Linked DNA regions of Homo sapiens. The protein of the gene in region 2 interacts with the protein of the main gene of each other region in a pairwise test. Each region holds a gene or a part of one and is shown on either strand. Other genes may lie near its edges.

Region 1 (3,835 bases), on a different chromosome or scaffold from region 2:
TACCACACCCAACTCCAGATCATTTAAAAACATTTTACACCCATTTAAAATAAAACAGTATACTGTTGGTAGATAGGTGCTAAAATACATTCTCTTGTGATTTCAAAACTAACAATGTCTATTAGTCATTACATTCATTAAGACTTTAGAGGCCAGGTGCAGTGGGTCATGCCTATAATCCCAGCATTTTGGGAGGGTGAACCAGATGGACTGCTTGAGCTCAGAAGTTCGAGACCAGCCAGGGCAACATGGTGAAATTACATCTCTACCAAAAATACAGTGAGGCCCTGTCTCAAAAATAAAAAAATAAAAAATAAAGACTTCCATTAAATCTATGAAATAACTTGTATTTACAAAACACAGAACTTTTACAAATAGCTCAAAGCATTTAAGAGACATTAGTCTTTTTCTTGTCATTATTTATTTATTTTTTTTGAGATGGAGTCTCTCACTCTTGTCACCCAGGCTGGAGGGCAGTGGTGCGATCTCGGCTCACTGCAACCTCTGCCTCCTGGATTCAAGTGATTCTCCTGCCTCAGCCTCCTGAGTAGCTGGGATTACAGGCACCCACCACCACACCTGGCTAATTTTTGTATTGTTAGTAGAGATGGGGTTTCACTATGCTGGCCAGGCTGGTCTCGAAATCCTGACCTCAAGTGATCCGCCCACCGCGGCCTCCCCAAGTGCTGGGGATTATAGGCATGAGCCACTGCCCCCAGCCTACTTTTTGTTTTCTAGAGACATTAGTCTTTATATCTTTAAAGGTATTTAGTCCAGTTTCTCAGATGAGACAGCCTGAAGCACAAAACTGTTAATTGACCTAATCAAGCTCCAAGGTGAGTCACAGATCAAACAGAAACTCTTAGGTCAACAGGTTCTCACTCTCACTCTCATCACGATTCTTTGTTATCTTCATCTGCAGAGTTTTAAGGCAATTGAAAGAGAGGTCCGCAGGCTTCTTTAAGGTAGAGAATACAAATGTTCCCCTTGTTGAGGTACTTAATTTCTTCTACTTGTTTTCACAGATTGCAATGAGAAATTAGAGTTCAACTATTTGGGTTTTTATTGCCTGCTCTGCTAGTGAAAGCACATACAACCCCAGGCAAGTTAATACCCTGTTTTCACCAAATGAAAAAGGAACTATGTATGGCTCAACATGTTCCAGAAAAAATGATTTTGTACTCACAGAGTGTGTAATGTGTATACATAGACCCATATGGAAGCTACCACACTGTATTAAAGACAAAGTATAAAAACATTACCTAGGTATTACTTAAGTCTTTCCTTCTTAAATGTGTGAAGTGGTAATTCCTCACTGGGAAGGCTCAGATTCACCAAAGATGCTCTTAACCAGCAATCAAAGCCTGAGCCAAGGACCGGGTGTGGTGGCTCACACCTGTAATCTCAGCACTTTGGGACGCCAAGGCAGGAGGACTGTTTGAGGCCAAGAGTTCGAGACCAGCATGGGCAACATAGCAAGACCTTGTCTCTTAGCAGGAAAAAAAAAAAAAAGAAAAAAAACAAAACCCAACTGGGCTGAAACCTCTCCCAGAATCCAGACTGTCTTGAGACTATCACCACTTTCATTCAGTTATGGAACTACCTGTGCTACTTAAGAGTAGCCAGGAACCTCTTCCCTGCTCCTGCAGAAAGAGATACCAAGGACAGCACTCTTTAGTAGATAGCAAACAAAAAAGAATTTGAGACTTGTCCTTATCTCAAACCTTATTTCCAGTAAAACAAAGCACCAGCCTGGCTCAGAAACCTGAAGTCTCGATCTCCTAAATATTTATAGGCTGTTAAGGATAGAATTTTAACAAGTCCCAACTACAAGAAAGCTCCTGTGAAGTCACACTGTATAACAGGATATTACTTCATCTGTTAGCTTAAAGACACCGGACTTTGTCTTTAAAAAAAGTTCATTTCCTGTTGAGTAGCAGCTGGCTTCCATAACCAAAAGAGGCCAAAAGCTGGCAGTAAGCCCAAGAAAGTTTTCTAAATAATTAGTGGAGGGAATAGAATATTGAATGTCCCTTATAGTTTTAATTAAGGCACAAAAGAAAAGGAAATAATATAGTTTCGAAGCCTTATACACCTGTTCATCTCTACAGGATTACAAAATGAATTTTCATTAAGAGGGTCTTCTCTAAATCCTATTGAACTGGCCTGGTTTAGGCAACTACTAAAAATACTGTAGATTTATTGCAGGCTTGAGAATTTCAACATATCAATACCTTCATATGTTGAATATTCTTTCACTAATGAGTCTTTGCAGGTAATAATATATTTTTAATGGTGTAAACTGTTAGCTTTAAACAGATACTCAGCTCTATGCTTTAGGCAAAAAATTAGTACTGGCAGCTGTAGTCTGTAGGAGTAATTCACTAACAGTAAGGCTGAAAGTTTTTCCTATTACAAAGTCAAATGCGTCATTTAGTGATGCTTCTGTTTAACTCCTGTTGCCAATGTTACTATAATTGGGAAAGCAGAAAACCTGAATATAAATATCAAGAAAAATGATGTTGTCAGTTTTAATAACCCTCCAAACAGTGATTCAGCAAAATAGTTGTACACAAGGAGGATGTACTCATCCTGCAATTTTAGGATTCCTTTAAACTAAGAGTTCATTTACTGATCCACATAACAGAAACCTGAATCCTTATTCTAAGTTTGCACAGCTCACCAAATGACAATAGCAGCTGGTTTAAAAGAAAATCCAGTCTCTGAAGTCTTTCCACCTTGTTCTCAGGGGCATGTTTCAAAGCAAGCACCATCATTACCTGCACTGAAGGCTCCTGCTGTCCCAGAAAAGATCTTACCCACAGAGATTATTGTCAGTATTCCTACTGAGCCAACTCAGCTCTCTGACAAAAGACAGTCTCTTCATCAAAGAGTTTTGTAACAGCAAAGGGTTTTCTCCTCCTGCCTACACAAAAGCTTTACATGTTTCTAACAAGGTATGAATAGTAGACCAGAGTTTACTGAGGTTAGAAATTTCCAGCAATTTCAATTTAAAAACGGATACCCTAGGAAACTTTGATACAAAGATTCAATCTATTCAGAGCATGGCTTACTACTGCTAAAGGAAAACATTCTATAGTTGTAAGATACTGAGAACAGGATCATTAAAAGTTGTTTTCCAGCCAGGTGCGGTGGTTCACGCCTGTAATCCCAGCACTTTGGGAGGCCGAGGCGGGTAAATCACGAGGTCAGGAGATTGAGACCATCCTGGCTAACATGGGGAAACCCCGTCTCTACTAAAAATACAAAAATTAGCTGGGTGTGGTGGCACGTGTCTGTAATCCCAGCTACTTGGGAGGCTGAGGCAGGAAAATGGCTTGAACGCGGGAGGCGGAGATTGCAGTGAGCCAAGAGCGTGCCACTGCACTCCAGCCTGGGGACAGAGCGAGACTCCACCTCAAAAAAAAAAAAAAAGTTTTAAGCAGTTCTCTCCAAATAAGCCTTGCTCAGTAATAATAATGAGGATGTTAAAAAACGGACAGATGCCTGCACATAAAATCCCACTAGACTTGCTGAATAATCTGTTTAACAGGACAGACCTGCTCCCAAACTTAATTCAGCAGCAAGTGTCTACTGAGGGCCTACAATGTACGAGGCGCTGTAGTGGGCACATCCCATGAGGCGGCACCTCCAGGCTTCTCTAGTGAACAGATTCCTGGAACATTCACTCTATGGGAGTAGGAATCCTACCTATCCACTCATGTGGGGAGGTGCTGTGGCCCCAGGGCCCAGGCGAATACCTGGCAAAGAGCAGATAATACATTTTTGAGAAATGAACAAGTTTTAAAATCTGTTAAAAGTTTAGGAGTTAACA
Region 2 (3,835 bases):
TCAAAAAAAAAAAAAAAAAAAAAAAAAAAAGCTAAAATGCCTAAAAACACTTCCATCTCAAAAAATTTATAGAATATAATCACTAAACAATTTCACTTATTTGAATATTGTTTACTTCTGAAATATTCAAGAATAATGAATACTTTAAAAAAGTGATCTAAGTAAAAAACCCAAAATCTTATAGTATAATTTCTTTCACATGGTGGGAACAACAGATTCTGCATGAGAAGGCCGGCTCTACTGCTTATCAGCCACTGGATGCTGTCACTCATGTCATTTAACTTTTCTGCCTCCCTCACATGAGAGGCAAGTGGGGATAATAATGCATACTTCACAAATAAATCAAACCAAGTCAAATGTTAAAAATGCTCCAGGCCGGGCGTGGTGGCTCATGCCTGTAATCCCAGTACTTTGGGAGGTTGAGATGGGTGGATCACCTGAGCTCAGGAGTTCAGGACCAGCCTGACCAATATGGTGAAACCTGTCTCTACTAAAAATACAAAAAACTAGCCAGGCGTGGTGGCGTGTGCCTGTAGTTCCAGCTACTAGGGAGGCTGAGACAGAATTGCTTGAACCCAGGAGGCAGAGGTTGCAGTGAGCCGAGATTGCGCCACTGCACTCCAGCCTGGGCGATAGAGTGAGACTCCACCTTAAAACAAACAAAAACCTCTGTAAGCTGCAATATGCTTCACATGTGGCACCCATCCACAGTAACACCCACTACACAACCTATATCATTAATAAACAGGAATTTTGTTTGAAGGCCTGAAATGAGGTAATGTTAACTTAGATTACCAGGGGAGATAGGTAAGGCCAAAAACATACTTCATCTACCTAAAAGTTTACCTGCGCTATGTGCCTGGTAGTTTTCCCCCTTTTCTTTTTTTCTCAAAAGCTCTCTGCTCCCAAGATCCAGGACTAAAGCTATGGCTATTAATGCCATGTTTAGGTATATATTATGGGCTAGTGTGGAAACCCAGCCCCCAGTTACAATATGGTTTCTACGGGAAAATGTTTGGTTTTTTTTTTTTTGATAGGGAATCTTGCTGTCACCAGGCTGGAGTGCAGTGGCGCAATCTCGGTTCACTGCAACCTCCACCTCCTGGGTTCAAGCAATTCTCCTGTCTCAGCCTCCCAAGTAGCTGGGATTACAAGTGCGGCCACCATGCCCAGCTAATTTTTTTGTATTTTTAGTAGAGATGGGGTTTCACCATGTTGGCCAGGATGGTCTCGATCTCCTGACCTTGTGATCCGCTCACCTTGGCCTCCCAAAGTGCTGGGATTACAGGCATGAGCCACCGCCCAGCCCTTTCTGTTTTTTTAGATGTAGTCCTGCTTTGTTGCCCAGGCTGGACTTGAACTCCTTGGCTCAAGTAATCCTCCTGCCTCAACTTCCCAGGTAGCTGGGACTACAGGCATGTACCACACCCAGCTAAAGTGTCCCATATTTTAAAAATGAGTCTGGAAGACCCAGTATTCACAAACTGGAAATTGCCAGATTCATGCAAAGCTAGTAGATATTTAAGGCTATCAGTCTGACTTACCATACCAACAACGAGTTCCAAGGAATTATTTCCATTATTAAGAAACTCTACTTTTGACAGTCATTTGAGTCTTACCAAGGTAGGGCAATAACCCAGAGATATTATGTATTCAACACTTGGCATACATATGGCTCCTTTTTGATAATTTATACTAAGACTTTTATTAAATAAACTTTAACAATGGTTTAAGTCTAGTAACTTAAAAATTGGAAACAATGCAGACTAAATGATCATCTTTCTGATAGATTGTCAAAGCAGTTAAAGGATACTGAAAAGTAGCTCACATCAGGAACTCTTCAGCTTGTCATTTTTCTTTGGCTCTAACAGTACTTATATCTGCTTTTAATTTGCTGAGTTTGTAAAATACAGTGAATTTTTTGCCTATTTTAGTTCTGTATATTACCAAATATATTTCGGTCAATTCAACAAACACTTTAGAACACCCACAGTGGGCCAGGCCTGTAATAGGTGCTGAAAGTAAAAGATGATCTTGGTTCTCAAGGTCAGGTGGGAACAGTTTTGATATAGGTAAAACATAGGTGCATGTACATCCCCCTCCCATTAGAAACAACTACTTAAGGAGAAGTACAGAAGTTTGCTGGAATTATGACAAAGTGAAGAAAAAGGGTCATTCTAGTTACAAAATTACTTTCTAAATATAACATGATTTAAAAGTTTTGTCAATTGAGGCTGAAGAATTTTGTGTAAAGTATGAAAGACCTTAGGATTATGGGGATGTTAGACTTCTCAATAACCTGTAAAATATTTGGGGGTTAGATGATATAGTACATTAGGGGGCTGAAAATACATAGAAAATGGCTATAATCACTGCATTTTTAGTATGTGAACAATACAGGATCTTTTCCAGAAACCTTTGCTGCCAGAAATGATACTGACACATGCTGGGTCAATTTTTCAAGATGTTAACAGTGACACAAACCAAAAATATCTCTGCTCAAAAAAGTGTGATTTATTAACTGTAAGAGGCAAAAGCAAAGAGTGATTTTTACCTGTCATTTTAGTCAGGGGTTCCATCAGAGTCACTCCAATTCTGTCTATGGCAATAATACGATGCATATTGAGAAACTGCTTCAAAGATGGATGTATAACTTTTTGGCACAGGACAAGATCTACGTGGTCACTGATTAGCTGCCTTCCTAGGTTAAGCAGCTGGTCCAAGACTGCATTTTCAAGAGAAACCCCATAACTGACCACCACAGTTCCTTCTCCAGTGTCAGAAGTGTCTCCGGATAAAGTTGTACAAAAGAGTGCCACCTTGAGGGCAGTTGATTTTTTGATAGGTAATAGCCTCATTAATTGAACTTCTGACATTTCAATGAGTATCCCAGGTAATACAGTGGAATCTATAACTCTTTGACCTTTTAAAGGTACAATTAAACTCTTTCCTAAAATGATGTGGCCTTCAGCATTTTCTGGAATTGTAAGCAAAAAGGCTCTCAGGATCAAAGCACTGACATGCTCTGTTTCCTTTCTGGTGAGCATACAGGCAGGTTTACTTGTTAATATACTACGCACCAAACAAAGGAGGATCTGAGTACTACTAAAGTCCACTGGGATTCGACAACCACAGGTCTCAGACTTGAGATAACTGATGCAAAGACTCAAAAGATGTTTATTTAATCTAATGACAGTGGTGGGTGTCAAGCCTAATCTCTGAACATTTTCAATCAGGTTGCAGCAAAGAATAGCTGTGAATAAGCCACAATCACTGAAGCTTGACACATGATTCTGTATGGAGGCTGTCAGGATCTTTAAAATGGGATGTGTGACCAAAAGGTGACTGAGCAGAGCTGAGGACTGTGAGGTTGTACACACGTAACCTCCAAAGCCATTGTGCAGCTGCTTCAGCCTACCTGAGGGGCCATAGCATGATGTTACAATTCTTTTCAAGACAGAAAGTGTGGTCCTGACTCTCTCAGTTGTCAGTGGTTCACTCTTACACAATGATGGCTTCTTAGCTTCCAAACGAGACATCTTACTTCAGGTGGTAACTAGTGAAGACCGTTTTTATTTTGTAAACCACATTTTTCTATTTATTGCATTATCACGTTTTAACATTAAAAATTATTCTTTAGGAATTAAAGTATGAATATGCAGCATTGTGGCTATAAAATCAAAAAGTTCAATGTTTATGAAGCTAATCAGCATAGAATGATTTAATGACAAATTAGTAATTCCAAATATTTATTTTACTTCACTCTTCAATACTCTTTTGTTTGCTTTGAGACTGAAATTTTACAGACTGCTTTGCAGACCTCTGCAAAAAGTAT

Evidence for each region. The genes of interacting proteins can lie anywhere in the genome.
Region 1: the proteins of MKKS (region 2) and CDR2 interact in binary tests that used the Homo sapiens proteins (3 or more experiments, as listed by UniProt).

What each region holds. Positions count from the first base shown.
Region 1 is NC_000016.10:22,367,790-22,371,624, forward strand, and holds part of CDR2 (cerebellar degeneration-related protein 2), read right to left. Parts: intron 1-3,835.
Region 2 is NC_000020.11:10,409,976-10,413,810, forward strand, and holds part of MKKS (molecular chaperone MKKS), read right to left. Parts: coding exon of another isoform or gene 3,760-3,835; 5' UTR 3,540-3,759; coding exon 2,555-3,539; intron 1-2,554. Other genes in the region: uncharacterized LOC128706666, read right to left, coding at 3,760-3,835. UniProt on the Homo sapiens protein: Probable molecular chaperone that assists the folding of proteins upon ATP hydrolysis. Plays a role in the assembly of BBSome, a complex involved in ciliogenesis regulating transports vesicles to the cilia.